Linked DNA regions of Homo sapiens. The protein of the gene in region 3 interacts with the protein of the main gene of each other region in a pairwise test. Each region holds a gene or a part of one and is shown on either strand. Other genes may lie near its edges.

Region 1 (7,022 bases), on a different chromosome or scaffold from region 3:
GGGAATGAAGACTAACCTGTACTAGTTGATTGAGTTTTTTGCTACAATTTCATACTCCAGAGCCTCCTGTCTCTTCCATCCTTTCTCTGCACACCCCTTCTTCCCTGCAGGAACTTCTTAGCAGATCCACAATGTGTGTCATCTACCCAACCTCATTATCCGGGCCCCTGTCTCATCCTCCCACACCATCCATGTCACAGCCTGGCTGCCTACTGCCTTTCAAAGGATAACCAGTTGTCCAGTTTATAAACTCCAATTTGACTTTAATAAATTAAATTCCAAGCCATCACACAGCAATGGACATCATCATCGTCTCCCAACACACAGAGGTGCAGCCTTGCGTGGCTCCATCATCACAGTCTTTAAATAAAGCCCCTAAAGCCATCTCTCTGGGGAAGGCTTCCCACCAGGCTCCCGGCTCCCTCCTTCCCACAGAGCCACTGCTCACAGAGAAGGCATCAAGTACAAAAAACGGTAATAAAGGGGGAGGGAGGGATGAGGAGCAGGAGGGGAGGCAGGAAGGTGGGGAGTACCTGCCCCCCATCCCGGGCCGGCCCTGCTCTCTGTGAGCTGCCAACATTCTCAGAGGCAGACACTGGTGCTGGTCTGAGTGGGGACCTGAGGGAGGTGTGGGAGCCCCATCCCAAAGGGAATTACCCACCCTCCTGGGACAGAAAAGAAGGGTCACCTGGGAGAGATGCCCTCTATCATCTGTTCACGGAGGGTCCTAAGCCACACATATAAATAGAAAAGAGAATAAATAAGGGAAGAAGGGTCAGCTGAAGAGCTGAGCACCCTGGGACTCCGCTCAGGGACCAGGCTCAGCAGGAGGCAAATGCTTCTGGGGAATACCCACACATGCCGGACAGGGCCCTCCTCTCCCTCCCAGCCACCAGTCCCTCGTCCATGTCCTCGGCACCGGGTGCCCACCTCTCATGTGCTTCCCGTTCCAAGTATCCTTCCAACCGGCCCCATGGCCCAGGGTGGACGGGGCTTCCCGGAACCCAGAGGGCTTTCCTGGCCCAGGCACTGGAGATCCAGGAAGGGGTATGGAAGGGGAGGTGGGGAATGGGCTGAGAGAACTCGTGCCCTTTCAGAGCTGGGTCCTCAGAGCTGGGGGCTGGGGTTACCATTGGCCTTGGGTTTGGATTTGAAGGAAAAGCGCTTGATAAGGCGGCGAGAAAAGCTGCCGGCCTTCTTTCGGACACTGGGCGTGGCCGTTGCGTTGGAGAGGTCATCGTGTGATTGGCTCAGGCCAGCTTCCTTCTGCCTAGGCCTCCGGCGGAAGATGAGCTTAGTGCCGCTGCGCAGGAAACTCACTGCAGGGGAAGAGGGGAAGCTGAGGCAGAGAGGGGCACGGGGTGGGGTGAGACGGGGGCAGAGACACGATGGAGAATGGAGGGAAAGAGGATGTGGACAGGATCAGTCCCGTGGCCCAGAAGCCAGGCTTCCTCAGGAAAGAAAGCAGAAACATACTTCTCCATAAGGCTTCGTGAAAAAAAGAAAAAAGAAAACGAAAGCAGAAACAAACATGTGCTTTATCCTTCCTGAGGCAAAAATCGTGGTACTTGTGGGGATCTGTGTACAATCTTAACTCTGCCCGCAAAAGAGATATCACGGAGCTGGCCGCTTTGTGAGGACAAACTGGGATTGGGCCTCTTTCCTATGGGAAGACAAAAGCTACCAGAAGGTACTCCCAAAAGTCTATAAATCATGAAGGGAAAGGTAGGTTGACACTGACTTGTTAACCGAATTCCAGGCTGTGAGCAGGAAGTGGTGCATCTAGAAACTTCAAAGAGGTAAATTCAGAACCAGTATAATGAGCAAGGTGCTCACCCAGCAGGCTTTGGAGGTAGAAACCTCATTATCTCAAGAAGTGATGCAGGCTTAAAAAATAGATAGATAGATCCATGGTTGATAGTCTCACTGGTAGAGGAATGAAGATGTTTTAGGGTGAGCCTCTCATCTTTTAAAGTTAGAAGAACTACCACCACTGGTCACTGCCTGTCTTGCTGCCAGATGGATAATCCAAGGGTAGGATTTCTTATACTCATTGGGGAGAGGGTGCAGATTGAAAGGGAAGAATTTTTTTTTTTTTTTTTTTTTTTTGAGACAGAGTCTCACTCTGTCACCCAGGCTGGAGTGCAGTGTCATGATCTGGGCTCACTGCAACCTCCAACCCCCCAGTTCAAGCGATTCTCCTGCCTCAGCCTCCCAAGTAGCTGGGATTATAGGCGCCTGCCACCACGTCTGGCTAATGTTTGTATTTTTAGTAGAGATGGGGTTTACCCATGTTGGCCAGGCTGGTCTTGAACTCCTGACCTTGTGATCCACCCGCTTTGGCCTCCCAAAGTGCTAGGATTACAGGCATTAACCACCGTGCCCAGCCATGGAAAAAAAAAATTTTTTTTGAGACAGGGTCTCACTCTGTCACCCAGGCTGGAGTGCAGTGGCACAATCACGGCTCACTGCTTCAACCTCCTTGAACCTCAACCTCCCAGGCTCAAGGAATCCTCCCTCCTCAGCCCCCTGAGTAGCTGAGATTACAGGTGTGTGCCACTACGCCCAGCCAATTTATTGTATTTTTAGTAGAGATGGGGTCTCGCCATGTTGCCCAGGCTAGTCTTGAACTCCTGGACTCAGGTAAGCCACCCGCCTTGGCCTCCCAAAGTGCCGGTGTGAGCCACCACACCCTGCCTAGGAATAAATTTTTATAATTTTTTTTTAAAGGGCAGGAAAAATGGCACTTAGACTCAGGAAGAAAGAACAATGGAGGTAAAGGGAAATAATTTGGCATCCCTTCCTATCACAAGCATGTCAGATCTAGGCCAGGAACCAAGGCACCAAGATCCCCCTCTAGGCTAGCTTGGCTGAACTAGGCTGGGAATCCGGCTATCTCTTAGGGGAGGAAGGAGAAGGCACACTGGCTCGAGGTCCCCCAGGTCATGATATGTGTATAAAAGAAGAGATGAGGGGCACCCTGCCAACGTCCCCCTACCTTTGTGATCCTTGAGGCTGCGGGTCTCCAGGGCACCAGTGGACCCCGTTTCCGACTCAATATCATCCACAGATGGCCTCTCAGAAATATCCGAACGGGTTGTCTCGTCTGCTTCCTGGACACTTGTGGGACTAGAGAGGGCATCTAGCGGTCCTGGAGACATGGCTGGTGGGTCTGAGGGAGGTGAAGAGGGGCCTCCGCTGGTCCCTGCATCATCCTGCACTGAGGCTTCCAGGGATGCCGCATAGCCCAGGGATAGCGCCAACTCGTCCTGAGCAATGGGCACCTGGCAGGAGGGACGGGTTTTAATGGGCAGGAGTGACCGACCCATTAGGGCTTTCTCCCCATCCCAGCTCCTCTCCCCAGAGCCCTGTTACCTTGGAAACACCAGAGATGATGAGAGTGCTGCGCTTGGTGGGTGTCTTCTTGGCCACCCGCCCACTGGGCTCTGTCAGCTGGCGAATCGCTGTCTCTGCTACAGGGTCCAAGCCGTTGGAAAGGTGGCTGTCCCCTGCTAGGGGTGCAGAGAATGAATAACCTGACTTCTCCCTGGCTCTTTCTTGGATTGGAACTCCTCCTATCCCACCCAGAGTACTTTTTGATGCTGGGGCACCAGGGCCAACCCACACTCATGCACCCCATTCCCCACTCACGGCTGCTGCTATGGGAGGTATTGCTGGGGCCACTGCTCTCACTCAGCACAGTTGTCGTCTTCTCGGTCACCTCCACCTTGGACGGGGAGCGGGAGGGGGAGTCTGGTGGGTGGGGGAGGGTCAGTGAGCTGGGAGTTGCTTCAGAGTGGCCCCCACCCCTACTGTCTTTGTTGAGATGCAGACTTTGGGTGACTCAGAGGGCAAGAATGATTAAAGGGTGATTAATCACAAGGGTGATTAGGAAGATGCCGTGGGGACTAAAAGACACCCCAGGAGCTAATGGGAGTGTAGGAAAGTGCCATGGGGCCTGCTGAAGGTGTGGGGAGATGCTATGAAAATATGGAGCGGGGACAGAGGGGGTACTGGGGCTCCCTGAAGTTGGGGCAATTCAGTGGGGCCCCTATAATGGCAGAAGTGCCATGGGGGCCCACTGAGTGGGGTAGAAATGCCACAGAGGCCTCTGGGTTTGTTGGAGGACCCCAGGGGGTGCTGGAGGGCTGAGGGTAGCAGGATGGACAATTATAGTCAGCTGGGGCTAAGGACACCTGTGAAAAGCCAGAGGGGAAGCTGGAAGGTAGGAGTGCAACAGTCCTGTATGAGGAGGGGCAGGAGGATCCAGAAGGGTGGCAGAGTGAGAGGAATTGCTGGGGAAATGGCAGGAGGTAAGGGAAAGTTTGGAAGAGACAAAGATTGGGAGGAAGATGTGGTAGGACTGGAATGGAATGTCTGAAAACAGGGGGAGTTGGAATTAAGGCTCTCTCCTCTTTCACTGTCCTGCCTTGGGTCTGCAGTCCCGGGCCCCTGGCTAGAGCTGGGCTCCCAGGCTCCTTCTCTTTACCTAATTTGCCGTCTATACGGGGCCGGGACTGGACAGTGGTGACTGTGGTGACAATGGTGCCATCGGGCATGATGGTCCGGTCAAGCTCAATCTTCTTGGTAGGTGTGATGCTGGGGCGTGGAGTGGAGGAGGTGGGAGTACCCAGGTTCCGGGGAGAGCCCTCCTCATAGTGAAGCTGCCCAGGGGTGGGAGAGAGAAGAGACAGAGCCTCGGAGACTGCCCATCCCCTGTGTCCTCCCACCTACCCCAGGGGTCAGCTTCTCACCTCCACTGCCATGGTGGCTGCTGGTCCCAGGGCTTTCCCTGGCCCTGGGGTGAGTGGGCACAACTGTCTTCGAGACAGTGGTCTGGAGGGGGAGCCCACAGGCAGTGTGGCCTGGCCTAGGAGTTCGGCTGGGGAAAGGGATGGCACTGTGAGCTGGGCCCATGGCCAGACCCCACTCTGTACCCACCCAGGGGTGCCCCTCCCACCCCTCACTTACTGTCTCCACAGCTGCTGCTCCTCAGCACTTTGAGGGTCAGCTCCCGGCTCTGGGGGCCCAGATCCCTGTGGGACAAGAGGAGATGGGGCAGGAAGGAGAAAATTAGCAAGCTGAACCCACACTTGAGTGGATCACAGGCCAGAGGCAGAGAGCTGTGTACATAAATAAAACGGCATAAATGCTCCAATCAGATTCTCCTGGCCTCCAAATTCTCTCTCGTCCCAAGAGAAAGGGACAGGGCCTGAGTGGAAACCATGCTTCTCAGCTATGCATTCAAATCCTCCCTGGTCCTGCTCTTCCTGTCTTGCCAGTCTCTCAGTTGCAAGCCACCCTCTTTCATTTGCTCCAGCTCTTCCCTCTGCCGAGAATACTTTCACACTCTGATGAAATCCTACTCTTGCTCTAAAGTGTGGTTTAAATGTCATCTCCTCCATGAAGCCTACTCTGATCCTTATTCCCTCATGGGAATTAATCTCCCCCCCACCTAGGCACTCTGACGGCACATTACATAAACCTCAACTGGAGCGGTTTTACCATCTTCTTTATGTACACCTGTCTCTGCCTCAAGCTTGTCATTGACCCAGGGGTGGGGGCTGTATCTTGGTCAAGTCTGTATCCCTAAGACCCACGCCAGGGCCTGGCATACAATAGGAGCTCACGCCAAAGGCTACTGAAAACAGAGCTGATTCCTGCAAGGACTGTGCTGGAAAGGTTTGATCCTCTCTGCTCTGGAGCATGGGGTCGGGGCAGGGTTACTCCTTACAGTGCCAGGTCTTCTGTCCACTCCACCTCGGATCCAGCCCTCGCGGGCTTGGTCCACTTCTGCTGCATGGGGTTGTCGAGTTCAGCTACACAGCACAGTTCCTCGGTGCCTGTGATGAACCAGAAGTTAGAAGATGCTCAGATCAGAGATGGGAAGTCACTGCAGAATAAAGAGGCTGTACCCTTGGCAGAGGGGCAGAGAGCATCTGCAACCAACCATAGCCTTGGCAGTCCCGCAGCCACTTCCAGCTCTCACCTTCCAGCTCATTTCCCAAGTGAGATGCCCGAAGCTGCCGTAGGAATAACCGGTTAGGTCTGGGGATGGCTGGCTGAGCCTGGGGCATCATGGGTGGCTTCTCACTGGGTACCTAAGAGCAGAAGAAGGTCCAAAGAGCAAGAATCCTGACATAGCACCCTAGGAACAAGGTGCATGCAAATCTTTTGCTTTGGGTGCCAACTCACCAGGCCTCCTGGGGCAGAGCAAGCCCTGAGGTTGACCATCATGGCTGGCTGGGTGCTGACTATGGCATCCTTGATCAGTTCCTCAATTGTGGAGAGCTCCACTTGTTCTTCACCTCTCTGCAGAGAGAAGAAGGGAACAACAAGGAGGTGGATCCCCCACCTCTGCCTCCCTCCCCGTTCTGCCTCTTCTCTGCCAGCTCTGCCTCCTTACCTCCCTGGCCTGAAGCTTGGGAAGCACCGTTAGGCTGAGATCTGGGCGATCAGTGAAGGCCCAGGATATGAGCAGCCCCTCACCAGGGATTTCCTCCAGGTTGACTTCCAACTACAGACAGGAACAAAGTGACTGGGCTGACTTGCCCCATTTACCCAAGGACTCCTAATTCGAGGACTCTCCCTTCCTGAATTCCATCCCAGAGAGGAAACAAATGGAAGAAGCTGAGCCAATGGAACCGCCCCTGCCCAACTCAGTTTCCCACATCCCCTTCTACCTGTGTTGGTGGCAGTGTCAGAGTGACGTGGTAGGTCTCCATGGAGACGGCAGCGGGGGACTGCTGGGTCACAGAGACTGGGAACCGCACCTCCTCAGCAGAGAGCTGGCAACGCAGCACCTGAGACCGGCGAGGTGGGTCAGATGTGGGGGAAGGGTGCTCACCCTGCTTTGAACTGCCCTGTAATAGTTCAGCAGACCCCTCCCCACTTCCGTTTTCCTAAGGACTTCATGTTTTCAGGATCATAAATCCCTAAAAGAATCAGATAAATGCCAAAGACTCCTCTCCCCAGAAAAATGCATATAAACACACATCCAACATTTTGCACATAACTTCAAT
Region 2 (7,593 bases), on a different chromosome or scaffold from region 3:
CAGTAGGGGTGAGAGGAGGAAGAGAAGGTATCACATTTAATGTGCTCTTACTATGGGCCAGCCACCGGGCTTGACTTGTCTGATACATTGTTAGATCCTTGCCATAAATCTGAGATCAGGCATTTCCGTTCCCACATTCCAGAGGAAGAAATAATAACAATCATATTAACATTGCTGAGGTTAACATAGTGCCCACTGCATATCAGGCAGTGGACTAAGCACACATTTGACCCTCAGGACAGCCCATAACATGGGTACTATTCTGAACTCCACTTTATAGAAGAGGAAACCAACTGAGACTCAGAGACATGAAGTAACTTTCCCAAGGTCACCCAGCAGGACAGCAAGACAGCCAGAGAGCCAGGATTCGAATCTAAGCAGGGCTCTCAAGCCTATGGGCCTATGGGAGAACATTTCCCAAGGGATTTATGGGGGTGGATCCAGAAGGTGACCTTAGCGATTGTCCTTACATGCATGCAGTGGGGCCCCAGTGTGAAAGTGACGAAAGAGACCAAGTGACCAGAGGCACTCCCCTCCCCTCCACCCAAAGGACAGTTTGTCCCAGCTTGTGGCTTTTCGTCACTCTGCCTCTGACCTGAAGTTTAACATTTCATTCATAAGTTTGGAACCACAGACTTGGCAGCGTAGGAAGAACCCTCGTAGACCAGCTAGCTATTCAAATCCAATCCCCTCATATTACAGATGGAAGAAAACCCTGAAGCCGGAATGTGACTCGCCAAGGTCACAGAGCAGTTTTCTGTTGGATGAAGGAGCCGGTTTAGGGTCAACTACAGATCATCTTGTGCTGTAGTTATCAAATGTGGGTGCACCTCTGAATCACTTGGGGAGCTCTCTAAATACACAGATTTCCACACTCTGCTTTGGGAGACTTGAACTGGACTTAGGTTTGCAAACAAGGACTGGAAATTTGAATATCCAGTATGTTCCTCAGGTGATTCAGATGGCACAGGGCCATGACAGCATCTGCAAGTCGGAGTCCAATGTCCCTCTTTCATTTGATAGTTTGGGATACTGGGACCCACCAGGGGACTCGCCCAAGGTCACATAGCAAGCCAGTGGGGCTCTAGTTCAGACTCTGTGGTCTGAAGCAGACTGCTTGTGGTCAAATTTGAAAATGGGCCAATGAAGCTAAACAAAGGGGTTGCCATGATTTTCCCCAGCTCTTGGTTTCCTTCTTGGATCCAAATTAAGACGGAGGATGATGTACATTTCCGAAGCTTGGCAAGGCGGGAATCCAAGAACTGAACTCCCAAAGGGGAAAGGAAAGGGCAGGAGGTTAGCTTGCACGCCCAGTGGGGTTTTCCCAGAGGTGAGCTCCGGACTCCAGGGATGACATCAGACATTCCAGCCAGCCCTAATATCAAAAGCTACCTGTGTTTTCTAGTTCAGCAGAATGGGTAGGCAGGGCCTTTCCTATTGGGAGGAGATGGGGTGGAGTGGGCCCAGCTGTGACGTGAAGGGAGCAGAGCCCAGGAAGAGCCACGCATTCCAGCATCTGCAAGGAAGACAGCTGCCCTGGGTATTGTCAACCTCTGCAGCCCTTTTCTAAGCCTTTCCTCCCATTTCTCCCTAATCCCTCACCCCAGGGCTAACTGAGCAGAGAGATTCACTGCCCCTTTTCCACTTCCTGCTACTCCACCACCTATTTTACTATCTCCCTTCCTTTATTTCCCTCTCCCTCCCTCCCTTCCTCCCTTCTTTCCTGTTCTTTTATTCTAAAATGGCATCTTGGCTGGACACAGCGGCTTATGCCTGTAATCCTAACACTTTGGGAGGCCAAGGTGGGAGGATTGCTTGAGCCCAGGGTTCAGGACCAGCCTGGACAACATAGGGATACCCTGTCTCTACAAAAAAATAAAATTAAATGAAAAATCAAAAAAGCCAAGTGCGGGCCAGGCATGGTGACTCATGCCTATAATCCCAGCACTTTGGGAGGCTGAGGCGGGCAGATCACTTGAGGTCAGGAGTCCAGACCAGCCTGGCCACAATGGTGAAATCCCATCTCTACTAAAAATACAAAAATTAGCTGGGCATGGTGGCACACACCTGTAATCCCAGCTACTCAGGAGGCTGAGGCATGAGAATCGCTCGAACCCGGGAGGCGGAGGTTGCAGTGAGCCAAGATCATGCCACTGCACCCCAGCCTGAGCGACAGAGCAAGACTCCGTTTCAAAAAAAGCCAGGTGTGGTGGCACATGCCTGTGGTCTCAGCTATTCGGGAGGCCGAGGCTTGGGCCTGGGAGTTTGAGGGTGCAGTGAGCCATGATTGCGCCACTGCAAACCAGCATGGGTGACAGATTGAGACCCTGTTTCAAAGAACCAAACTAAACCAAACCAAAACTAAACTAAAAGTCATCTTGATGTTTGGAGTCAGTTGTCCTGAATTTGAATCTCAGCTCTGCTCCCTGTGAGCTCTCTGACCTAGAGAGTCACACCACCTCCCCCCAAGCCTAGTTTCCTCCCCTATAAAAAGGGGACAATAGCTATATTTTCAGATTGTGAGAATTAAACAAGATCATGTAGGCACTTAAGAAACAGATGTTTTCTCAGAAACACTAGATCATGTGCATAATCAGTGAACTAGAGGAATTTGAATACATATTTGTTGGACTGAATTGAGGTGCCTAAAAGAATGGTTGAGCTGGAAAGCACCTAAGAAATCTTTGGGCCTTAATAACTCCCCAACTGGAGTCCAGGGGAACTGTTCAGGGTATTTCCAAATGATAAGGACAATCGCACACTCTCAATAAAGTCTCAAGTTTCTTTACTTTTGTCTGGAATTGTATCAGCTCAAGGTGATAACACGGCTACCACAAGCTGTTCAGAAATTCTGATTGGCAGTTACATGGCTCTTTGATACGTTTTTTTTTTTTTTTTTTTGAGACGGAGTCTCGCTCTGTCGCCCAGGCTGGACTGCAGTGGCGCAATCTCGGCTCACTGCAAGCTTCGCCTCCCAGGTTCACGCCATTCTCCTGTCTCAGCCTCCCGAGTAGCTGGGACTACATGCGCCTGCCACCAGGCCCGGCTAATTTTCTGTATTTTTAATAGAGATGGGGTTTCACCATGTTAGCCAGGATGGTCTTGAACTCCTGACCTTGTGATCTGCCCGCCTCAGCCTCCCAAAGTGCTGGGATTACAGGCATGAGCCACTGTGCCCAGCCTAAGTTTTTTTTTTAATGAGAAAATAATTACTGGAAGGTAGATTAAATGGTGGAAAACGTTAATCATGTCCAACTCCTCATTTCATAAACAGGGAAGCTGAGGTTTAAAGAAGGAAGTGGCTTGCTGGTCACACTGGGTGGCATAGCTGGCCCTAAAACCCAAATTCTTTTCCTGGAACAACTTACTTCCCGTCTTTCCACTTCAGAGAGGGGGAACCTAGGATCAATGAAGTTGATGGGTTTTCGTCTGCTGGAGTAGGAATAAGTGAGTTATCGATTTGCTCTTGCTTTTTCTGTTCTTAACTCATTCAGCAAATATTTACTGACTGTCCACTATTCGGATTTGGAAGATAGATAAAACAGTCATGGCAGCAGAGAGGGTCAGGATTTACTCCTATGTGCGACTTCAGAACCTGTGCCTTTTTCCACTGGACACCCACATTTTAAAACACCCACTACTCTGCCTTCTAATATAGTTCATCTGTGTCTCAGGGCAGGGGCTGTCTTATATATACATGTTCTAGCCTTCCTGCCACCGAGTAGGTGCGAAATCAATGTTGTAGTGTTGAGGAAACACTTGAATTTTATTTATTTATTTATTTATTTATTTATTTATTTAGAGACGGAGTTTTGCTCTTGTTGCCCAGGCTGGAGTGCAATGGCGTGATCTCGGCTCACTGCAACCTCTGCCTCCCGGGTTCAAGCAATTCTCCTGGCTCAGCCTCCCGAGTAGCTAGGACTACAGGCGTGCGCCACCACGCCCCGCTAATTTTGTATTTTTAGCAGAGACGGGGTTTCTCCATGTTGGTCAGGCTGGTCTCGAAACACCGACCTCAGGTAATCCGCCCACCTCAGCCTCCCAAAGTGCTGGGATTACAGGCGTGAGCCACCGCGCCCGACCAACACTTGAATTTTAATACTTACTTTGCTACTAACTGTGTCGTTGAAACAGTATGTTGCTTTCCTTCTCTGGCCCTTAGCTTAACTATCTGTACAGCGGGAACATTGGCAAACTCCTACGTGGAGGAGCTTGCAGGTCCACTTCAAGTTATCAGACTCTAACTAGGAGAAAACATTGAGAATTTAGGCTGAAAATAACGACACAGTTTATCACCTCGTTAATTCCCAAACATCATTACCGCGTCCTAAGCCACCCCACTTGCCTCTCCCCTAGCCGCCTTCCTTTAAAAAAAGAATTCCCCTCTAGAGGGCGCGCAAGCTCTGCGGCCTTCGTTCCTCTCTTCCGTTTGCCTTCACTCTTCCTTCTGCGCATGTGCTCAGTTCGCTATCCGGCTGCTTGTACCTGGTTCAGGAGGTTCAGGCAGAGGTTGCACCCACTACGCCTGCGCAACCTCAGCCCCGCCCCTCCGCTGCTTTCCCCGGAAACGTTTCTTTCCTACGCAGCCGCTCCTGCCGCCGTGGTCGCTGGAGCTTTGCCTCTCTAGGCCGGCAGCGCCTCTCCTCCATGGTCCTGTCTGTCAGCGCTGTTTTGGGAGCCCGCCGGTGAGGCCGGGCCACGCTCAGACACTTCGATCGTCGAGTCTGTCACTGGTGAGTAGACCCCAGAGGAGCTCGTGTACGGGCGGGGGCCGCGCAGGCGGAATGGGCTGGATTTCCCCTCACTCTGAGAATGGGTCTGTCTGCCCCGCCTTCCCCCTGACTCTTGGAATGGGCTCACCCCTTGGTTCCAGTCCCTCCTCCCGGGCGGGGCGACGTTGCCATGGAGACAGGCCGCTGGCTGAGGCCCGGCTCGTGTCCCTGCAGGGCATGGCGGGTCAGTTCCGCAGCTACGTGTGGGACCCGCTGCTGATCCTGTCGCAGATCGTCCTCATGCAGACCGTGTATTACGGCTCGCTGGGCCTGTGGCTGGCGCTGGTGGACGGGCTAGTGCGAAGCAGCCCCTCGCTGGACCAGATGTTCGACGCCGAGGTAGGGTCCCCGGACTGGGGCGGGTGGGGTCTCGGCCTCCCCGAGTAGGCTTTGTGGTCCATCACTACTGTGCTGTAGACGTGGCTGGGTCACCTTCTTTCTTTGTAGCCCTGGGAAAGGGATTTCACCTTTCTGAGCCTCAGCTGCCTCATCCATAAAATGGAATGACAGCAGAGGCTGATTAGTACAAAGAAAAGGGCCTGGATGTTAATACAATAAACACGTCTGTGTTCCAGGCAACTCTGATACATTTCCTTTCTGATACTCTGGGAAAGTGACTTGATTTCTCTGAGCTAGGTTCTCAGGTGCCACATCGGAGAGAGGGGTGGATAAAAGAGCATTCGTGCGGGTACAGTGGAAACTGCCTGGACTTTGGGGTCAGACAGGCGTCCGTTTAAGATCCACTTACTAGCTGTGTGACCTGGGGCAAATGTCACCTCTGTGAACTTGTTTTCCTGTCTTCAAAACCATGAGACTAGTTGCAGAGAGGTCGTGGACTGCAATATAAAGAGCATGTGCTTTGGGTTCAGAAAAGCAAGGGTTCAGTCTAGGCCTAAACATATAAAACTAGCTGTGGGACCTTGGGCAAGTTGCTTCCCCTTTCTGAGCCTTTTCTGAAAAGTGGGCCGGATGCTCCTACCATGTTGCCCTCAACAAAATGTTACAAGGCCCAGAGGGGTTTAGGAATAAGAAGGTACTTTGTAAAGTGTAAAGGAGGCCTATAAGTTGTTACATCTAAGAGGCAGCTGTGGCGTGGTGATGAGCACAGTTCTTTTTTTTTTTTTTTTTTTTTTTTGAGACGGAGTCTCCCTCTGTCGCCCAGGCTGGAGTGCAGTGGCAGGATCTCGGCTCACTGCAAGCTCCGCCTCCCGGGTTCACGCCATTCTCCTGCCTCAGCCTCCCAAGTAGCTGGGACTACAGGCGCCCGCCACTACGCCCGGCTAATTTTTTGTATTTTTAGTAGAGACGGGGTTTCACCGTTTTAGCCGGGATGGTCTCGATCTCCTGACCTCGTGATCCGCCTGCCTCGGCCTCCCAAAGTGCTGGGATTACAGGCGTGAGCCACCGCGCCCGGCCGAGCACAGTTCTTAAAGCCAGGAGACCTGGGATGGAGTCCTTGCTCCTGCTGCTTGTTCTCTGTGTTAGCCCTTGGGCAAGTTATTATCCAAAAAGTGATAAGAATTAAAAGAAGAAGAATGGCTTTGTGAGGTTTTTTTAGGGATAATATGAGATTATGTATGTCAAAGACCTTTCTTTGTCAGCTGAAAGTGTGGTGCAGATGTTTGGCATTTGATAGTATTGTGTTGGATAGTGGAGGTTGCACACCCACCATATGCCTAGTTGTAGTCTCGTAGGAGACTCTATGCTCCTGGGAAGAGCTGTGGGAATGCCAGGCTTTGTTGAAGAGCCATATGATGCACACAACCTGAGTTCTAGCCTAGGGATCAGCAAACCTTTCCTTTAAGGGTGAAGTAGTAAGGATTTTAGGTCACAATTATTCAGCTCTGCCATTGTAGCACAGAAGGCTGCTATAGACAAATATATAAGTGAATAGGTGTGGCTGTGTTTCAATAAAACCTTATGTACAGGAGCAGATGCCAGGCCTATGGAGCCATAGTCAGCTGAACGCTGTTCTAGACTTTACTCTTGTTGTTTATTACTTTGGGCAACTTAACTTGTCTGAGTTTTTACGTCCTCCTTTGTAAAATGAGAATAATCCCTTTCCACCTGCTGTGAGAAACAAATGAAATCCCATAATGGATGTCTATGAAAGCACCTATTGGAAATAGGCTGCCGTACAGATGTAGGGAGGTATTATCTTCTGTGCTCTGGGAAGAATGCTTGTTCCTTAGGAGGCTTGCTGAGATCCTGGGGCTCTGCCAAGTCACTTCTCCAGTATATTTCCATTTGTGATTCCCCCTCAGATCCTGGGCTTTTCCACCCCTCCAGGCCGGCTCTCCATGATGTCCTTCATCCTCAACGCCCTCACCTGGTGAGTATCACCAGTTTTGCTATCCAGCTTTTGGGCTCTTAGTGCTGGGACTAACTTCCTAAGTTTGAACATGAGACAGGCTGGCACTTGTTTCTGGGGAGTGGTGGAGTAAAGTGGGTGACAGAGGCCAGTTCTGGGACCAGCTGTATAATGGGCCTCCTTCCATTGCTGTTTTGACTTACCTGGAAAGCTCTTATGTCACTATGTTTGTGCTGCCTGCAAGACAACTTCCATCTCAGATAACTTCCCTGATGTGGAGTGAGCTGAGAAAGGATTCGACCGAGAGGCAGGAGAACTGGGTTCTGTTCTTGGTTTGTGTGCCATTGGCCAAGTTACTTGCCATGGGCCTCAGGCTCCTCTTTTGTCCATGAGGGTTTGGACTCAGTGATGTCTAAGGTCACACGTAATCATTGCCTGTCTCTTAAGAGGCAGTTTAGCATAGTGGTCAAGGTGTCAGGCTCTGGAGGCAGACTCATTTGGCATTGAACC
Region 3 (7,022 bases):
TGTCTATTACCTCTCTATGTACTCTAAACTGTGAGTTAAAAATGTAGTTTCCCTATTCTGTATATTTCTTAAATTTCTGTATTCAGTGCTTAGTCACTGCTCAAAGTCTTCTCTTCTCACCAAGCTATCAGAGGAAAATCTGTACCTTCTATTACAATGTGTTCAGAACCCCCCACATCCACTCAGATGCACACAGCTGTACTTTATACAGTGTTTTTCTTCTCTTTACCAGGGAATCATCTGTTTAAGAGAGGATAAATAATGAAATTATAGCTATATTTCTAGGGCTTAAGAAACATTTAAGGCAAATGCTTAAGTTCTCTAAAAATCACATGAAATATTTTTCTCTATTAATATTGCCATGTATAATAATAAACTCTGTAAGAGTTCTCTTAAAGACATGGCTGTATTATCTATCAATTATGGAAAAGTAAGCAGTTCACTCAGAAACCTGACAGCTTGCTGTGGTTTTGTCCCTTGAACACAGAAATGTGCATAGTGCTGGGGCCAGGAGTCACTCCTGTGCACTTCCCCTGGCTCCAGTCCTGAACTCTCCATCTTGGAGTCTAATTAAACTGACTTCATTCTAGAATAGGACAGAAAAAAAAGCAAAAAAAGGAGTTGTAAGCATTTCTTGGCATGTCAAGCATAAAAGTAATGCTAGGAACATCTACCATTCTATTCAGAATATCTGTACCTTGGCTTATGAAACATACATGGGAGAACAAGACACAGATATCCCACAGCTGCAACACCTCTGATAATCAAATATGCCTGCACACGCCCACACTCCTGCACACCACCACACGTAGACAGGGAGACACCATCATGGCCTGAGGCTGATGGAGAATTCATTTTGACCCCTGAACACTAATTTTAAGATTCATGTTTCTATCTCTCCTCTTCCTCCCACCTCTACCTTCTTCTTTACTACTCCTTGAAGAACTAAAACCAAAATGAAACCCTGAAAACCTATACAGGAGTGCCTGTATAGGTTTTATCCAGGGCTTAATTCTCCAGAAGAGTTAGAAATAGGTTGGTGCTGTAAGAATGAAAAGTGGGTAGGCTTTCCTGGAAAAATGTACACAAACTGCTTACCACCAGAGGGAAGCTTTCCTCCCCCTTTTAGCTTTAAAGGCTATAGTGTTACCCCTTCAAAATAGGGAGAAGAGAAGGGTTGATTCTGATTTTTCTTTCATTTTTAAGCTATAACATTTGCCTTTGAGATCATCAAATGTGATTTTCAACATTGCAGTGATATAAAATAACTGGGCCTGAACTCAGACAGACAATTCAAAACCTAAATGCAGATCTCACCAGTCACACTCCTCTTAGCTTTTAAAAAACAACTGAGATTTGACAAGTTATCCAATCAGAGAGGGTGATGTGCCACAAAACATACCAAACACAAGTGCCACCCACTTCCTTCCTCCCCTACCTTCAAACAAGAAGCAGGCACTTATTAGATGCTTAATAATAAAATGCTTTCACATGTGTTTTTCACATTTTGTTCATTTTCCACTCTGTATTTTGCTTGCATGAGAGTATTTCTGAAAATACTTTAATTTTGAATATCATACGAAACATAATAGAAGAATCAATAACAAAGGCTTCTATTTTAGATATTCTAGAAGGCATACTTGTACAAACAACTCTGACATTTTGAAAAATCGATTTTAAAACACACTCATAACGCATTAAGATACTTGCTTGCCCAGTTGTCTCTACACCCCAAGCGGCCACCTTTCCTCATTTAGGAATACAATTTAGGACAGCAATATGAGTGCATTTATGTGAAAGGAAGACTGTGTTAACCTTTGACTTACCTCACAGAACATATACAGAGACAGCAGTGTGAGTCCAAGGTTATACACCACTAAAATCCCCCGGCAAGAGAATGGCTGTTTATTCCTCATGTATTTTGGTCCCAGCCATACAATTAGTAAATATATGACAGAGCAGATAAATGTGGGTATATAATTGTCCAGAAGAAACCATCCTTTTACTCTAGTATCTGAAAAATTAAAAAAAATTAATGATATATAAAAACATTCACAACTTTTCAAACGTTGAAAAAATTTCTCTAACCATGATGATATAAAAGTCACCTGGTATTCATGTTCTTAATTCCAATAAAGCAATCAGGAGAGGAGGCATGGATTTTCAATACATATCAAACAAGGTGAAGCTCCTTGTTACATGCTCTGAATAACAATGTATTATTCATGATTTTTGCTCAGTAAAATAATAATACAAATATTCTTTCCAAAGAACTTAAGAAGAAAACAAGGAGAAGGCTACACTTCCCATTAATTGGATTTATTAACCAGGTATACCAGATTACACATAGGGTGATAAAACCCAAGAAATGGCAGTCATTGAACTCTGAAGTCCTCCATCTCAGCTGTGTGTCAGTCGGCAAGTGTGGCCAGCACATGCAGACTCAGAAAACGTGCTGCTTAGCCACGTTAGTGAAACTGGCACTAATTAGAAAGGCAGCCTTTGCTATGAGTGTAATGGTCAACAGCAGAGAGGACAATGATTTAAAAACAAAACAAGGGCTGGGTGTGGTGGCTCATGCCTGTAATCCCAGCACTTTGGGATGCCAAGGCGGGTGGATCACCTGAAGTCAGGAGTTCAAGACCAGCCTGGCCAACATGGCAAAACACTATCTCTACTAAAAATATAAAAATTGGCCAGGCATGGTGCTGCACACCTGTAATCCCAGCTACTTGGGAGGCTGAGGTGGGAGAATCGCTTGAAATTGGGAGGAAGAGGCTGCAGTGAGCTGAGATCGTACCACTGCACCCCAGCGTGGGCAACAGAGTGAGACTCCGTCTCAAAAATGAAAATAAAAACAAAACAAAACATGAAGGTGAAGCAGCAATGATCAGATAAATGCCTATTTAAAGGGCAGTATTTAACAAACTGAGGAGTAGTAGCATGAGAGCGAAGACCTAGGCGGATCCAGAGGAGATACTGGTATAGGAAGGGCCTCTCCTGCCCCTATTCCTTTTCTTAGGCAGGGAGGAGGGAGAGGGAAACAGGTCAGCCGCCAGCAGCAAACTGACAACCTCTTCTTGGATGGCGGGAAACTCCTTGGCAGCCAGAGCCCCTAAGTGTTATGTGTCCCCTGAAAGATTCAGCTTCATACTCTGGCTGACCCCAGGAAGCTACCTCTGAAAAGCATGCTCCCCTTTGAACCCTGCTATGATGTTCCCCGAAAACCTGTGGCTCCTCAATCTTAACTACCCGCCAAGGCTCACAACTCCAGAACATGAGGCACATGCAGCATTCACCTACTGCGTCTTCAGAGAAGCAGCAGTTGGGAGGACAGCCTTTGCCATTTCTTTAATTTTTTTATTATTCATTTATTTATTTATTCTGAGACGGAGTCTCACTCTGTCGCCCAGGCTGAAGTGCAGTGGCGTGATCTCAGCTCACTGCAACCTCTGCCTCTAGGGTCCAAGCGATTCTCCTGCCTTAGCCTCCAGAGTAGCTGGGACTATAGACACACACCACCACACCCCGCTAATTTTTGTAATTTTAGTAGAGACCAGGTTTCACCATATTGGTCAGGCTGGTCTGGAACTCCTGACCTCAGGGGACCCACCTGCCTTGGCCTCCCAAAGTACTGGGATTACAGGAGTGAACCACCACACCCGGCTCTGCCCTTTCTTTGACCCCTCCCAGACTGGACCATCTTGCTACTCTCTCCAGTCGTTTTCACCTTGATTTCACAGAACAAGAACAGGCTCAATAAAGCATATGTCCACGTGGGGAACTGTCAGTCAGTCTTCCTTTCTTGCACTGTACACACTAAACTTTCCCAGCATTTCTCTCATGGCTGGCTTGCTTTGGCTTCAGAGGGACATGCCCTCCACACCCTCCCCACTAGTTATGCTATGGTCACGGAGGGTGTTACTGTCAGTCCGGCAGAACTGGTTGTGCTTAGAAGTCATTCAGGGAAATGGCTGGCCCCAGGGACTTTAAGGGGATGCTTAACACCTTTTGTTCTCAGCTTTGGGCCTTGGCTGTCAATTTTAAGAAAACCAGTTCCCACTTAGCAACTAACATCAGACTGTTATTTTGTATGAACATATATATCACAAACAATAAATACACACAAATCTCCCTATTTTAACTTAAACCTCTGATTTACACTTTGCTTTATTCATTTTCCCACAAATACTCATCTTTCCAAATTGGCACATATTCATCCTCCCACACCGCACAGTGCTTCCCGGGCACCTGACCCGAACTCCAGCCCCAGGTAGAGAATCCTTAGGATCTAGTCAATCTGTGGTGGTCCTAACCCCCTCTGGTGGCTGGTTCAGGCAGGGGCATGTGAAGCAATTGTGGCCAGTGAGTTTTGAGGGATGACAGCTGGCAAAGAGCTCTGGGAAACAACTTCTTTATGCTTAAAACCACACAAATGAAACATTTTTTCTTCTTCCTCTGAATGTGCTGCTTGGAGCTGCTGTAGCCATCCTACAACTGTGTGAAGTGGGGGACCCATTCTGAGGACAGAGCTGCTGATACCTGGAAGTGGCAAAGTAGAAAATGACAAGAACAAGGATCCTTGGTTACATCATACAGTCCCTGAAATAACTACGGAATTGCTCCACCTGGTAATGCAAGCTAATAATTATTATTATTATTTTAGCCATTTAGAGTTGGATTTTTTGTCCCTTACAGCTAAAGTAAGGCACTATCCCAACCCAAGCACATACAGATGGATCTAACTTATTCTTTTTTGTTCTTTTCAATGGGCCATACACTAATTTACAGAACCTCTCCCCTACTGACAGGCATCCAGATGATTCCTTGAAAAACAATGCTGTAATGAGCATCCTGATATGTATCATTGCATAACTAATCAAGGCTAGCCACAGGATAAAGTATTAGGAGTAGAATGGCTAGGCAAAAGGGCATGTGCATTTTAATTCCAACAGAAGGCAAAACAGCCTTTCAGAGAGGTTGTACTCTTTCTCCACGCCTTCACTATTATCACTATTATCATAGGTGACATGAAACCTATTATTTCATCTCTGCCATGTTAATAGACTAAGTCCTTTTGTTATTTCTTTTGTGTTTTAAAAATCATGAGAAACTGAGATTCTTTTTGTCTGTTTAAAAGCCATTTCTAGTTTTTCTGTGAGCCTAAGAAGTTCTTTATACAAAAGACTTTAAAAGACTTTTACAGATGACATCAAAAGAAGGCAATATGAAGCTGATTTACTTTCTAAAAGATACAGCAAGTAAGGTTCAGGTGCATATTTACCAGTGAGTTAACATGATACAAAATGAGAAGACCTTAAAAAGCCCTTAAAATTGTAAAAGGGGAAAGGTTTTAAACTCCTATTGCAACACTGCATTTTGGAAACTAGTTTTTCTTAAAGACTGCCAAGAATTGAGAAAAAAATGCCACTGATAATGGTGAAATCTATAGTATTCTCAGGCTACAAGCTTTACAGCATATTTTTAAACTCCAGTTAAAGTCAACGGAGGACCACCCACAGCAGGTGTCTCTGTCAGAGACTTCTCCAAATTCCTTGTTATCCAGGATAAAGTTTTAGACTTATCATAGAAAATGCTAACATTTTCTACTATCTCCTCATGCAATATTTACAAGGGACTATAGGCAGGGAGTGATGCTGCAGAAGGTAAGCAAAACCAAAAACCACCTTACCTCGAGGGCCTAGCAATGCCTTGAAATAGGTACTAAGTGATGCATCAAAATGTTCCATTTGAAAACCTATTAAGAAAAAAAAAGATACTGATTAATCTCTACTCAAAATGTTTTTTATACAGTATTTTTTCATAAAAGAATAAATTCTTTTCAAAGAATATGCTACAGACAAGGTTAAGTTCAGTTCCTTAGGTTAAAAGAATTTAATTCACAGAAGTGACTTCTGTGCTAGATCTAACTTGAAGATCAAAAGGAAAGACACAATTCTGTGAGTTCACTTTATAAATGAAGTGCCAGTTTTCTGAACTTCTTTTCTTAGTTCCATAAAAACTCTTTCCGTGAAGCTGAAATCTCAGTGGGGAAAAAAGTGGAACTAACTGGAATGAGAGGTGGCAGACAGGAAGAGATCCTGTCTGGGCAACAACTGAGGACTTGAGGTAAGACAAGGAAGAGCCATATCAGGGAACAGAATGCCACAGTGACAAGACAGTTTTTTCCGCTTGTTACTTTTATCAATTATTATTTTACAGTACTTCATATCTACAGTAAAAAAAAATTCAAGTATTAAAAATTAAAAAAAAGGGGCAAAAATCTCATTACTTCCCTCAACCTCAATCCCCAAGCCACGCATCACAAGGAACCTAATGGTAACATTTCTTCAATATACTTCCAGAGATTTCTCCTCTTTTGAGCACAAAGAGGTCATGCTAAATGGATGTTTTCACAATTGTGGGTGAAATCTACCATTAGTAGATGATCATGTCAACTTAGCATTAAAAATAATAATTGATCATAGTAGAGAATCAGAATGCTTTGCTCTCAGTGAGAATGAATATAGTTTTATAAAACTTTAGTTTTATTATATCATATTTATAAGTATAATGTACTTAGCTGTGATGTAAAATATATTCTTACTGTGGGGATCACAGTTAAAAAAAACTAAAAAAACACTATTATATATAGAAGTGTGTATATATTACTTGCTTATTTTCACTTAATAAAACATCTTGAGATACCAGTTAAAGATTTACCTCCATCTTCTAAGATTCTATAGCTCCCTACCTTCCCCAATTTAAGATTTACATTTAGAGGGTAGCTAATCAACTTTTCATATGCATACTGACTAGATTTTCCAACTTTCCTGGCCATTCTTCTTACAGGAATAATCATCAATATTATAACGTCCAAGGGCAAAGGCAGAACTGATTTTATTAACTAAGCTGTTAATCATTTAGCAATACTTCTCTTCCTTGGCTTGCCACACTGAAGCGTTATGTATTCACTGGCTAATTTTAAGATAAACTACTTTATCCACGAAATCATCTAATGG

The links. The genes of interacting proteins can lie anywhere in the genome.
Region 1: the proteins of ELOVL5 (region 3) and C2CD2L interact in binary tests that used the Homo sapiens proteins (3 or more experiments, as listed by UniProt).
Region 2: the proteins of ELOVL5 (region 3) and SYS1 interact in binary tests that used the Homo sapiens proteins (3 or more experiments, as listed by UniProt).

What each region holds. Positions count from the first base shown.
Region 1 is NC_000011.10:119,110,342-119,117,363, reverse strand, and holds part of C2CD2L (phospholipid transfer protein C2CD2L), read right to left. Parts: intron 6,804-7,022; coding exon 6,684-6,803; intron 6,518-6,683; coding exon 6,407-6,517; intron 6,313-6,406; coding exon 6,196-6,312; intron 6,102-6,195; coding exon 5,990-6,101; intron 5,844-5,989; coding exon 5,735-5,843; intron 5,037-5,734; coding exon 4,972-5,036; intron 4,883-4,971; coding exon 4,755-4,882; intron 4,665-4,754; coding exon 4,490-4,664; intron 3,754-4,489; coding exon 3,652-3,753; intron 3,513-3,651; coding exon of another isoform or gene 3,510-3,512; coding exon 3,376-3,509; intron 3,285-3,375; coding exon 2,999-3,284; intron 1,340-2,998; coding exon of another isoform or gene 1,320-1,339; coding exon 1,108-1,319; 3' UTR 1-1,107.
Region 2 is NC_000020.11:45,358,583-45,366,175, forward strand, and holds the start of SYS1 (protein SYS1 homolog), read left to right. Parts: upstream 1-4,573; 5' UTR 4,574-4,733; exon of another isoform or gene 4,734-4,786; intron 4,787-4,946; 5' UTR 4,947-4,949; coding exon 4,950-5,111; intron 5,112-7,036; coding exon 7,037-7,104; intron 7,105-7,593. UniProt on the Homo sapiens protein: Involved in protein trafficking. May serve as a receptor for ARFRP1.
Region 3 is NC_000006.12:53,289,950-53,296,971, forward strand, and holds part of ELOVL5 (very long chain fatty acid elongase 5), read right to left. Parts: intron 5,759-7,022; 5' UTR 5,751-5,758; coding exon 5,693-5,750; intron 4,543-5,692; coding exon of another isoform or gene 4,334-4,542; exon of another isoform or gene 4,139-4,333; intron 2,015-4,138; coding exon 1,827-2,014; intron 1-1,826. UniProt on the Homo sapiens protein: Catalyzes the first and rate-limiting reaction of the four reactions that constitute the long-chain fatty acids elongation cycle.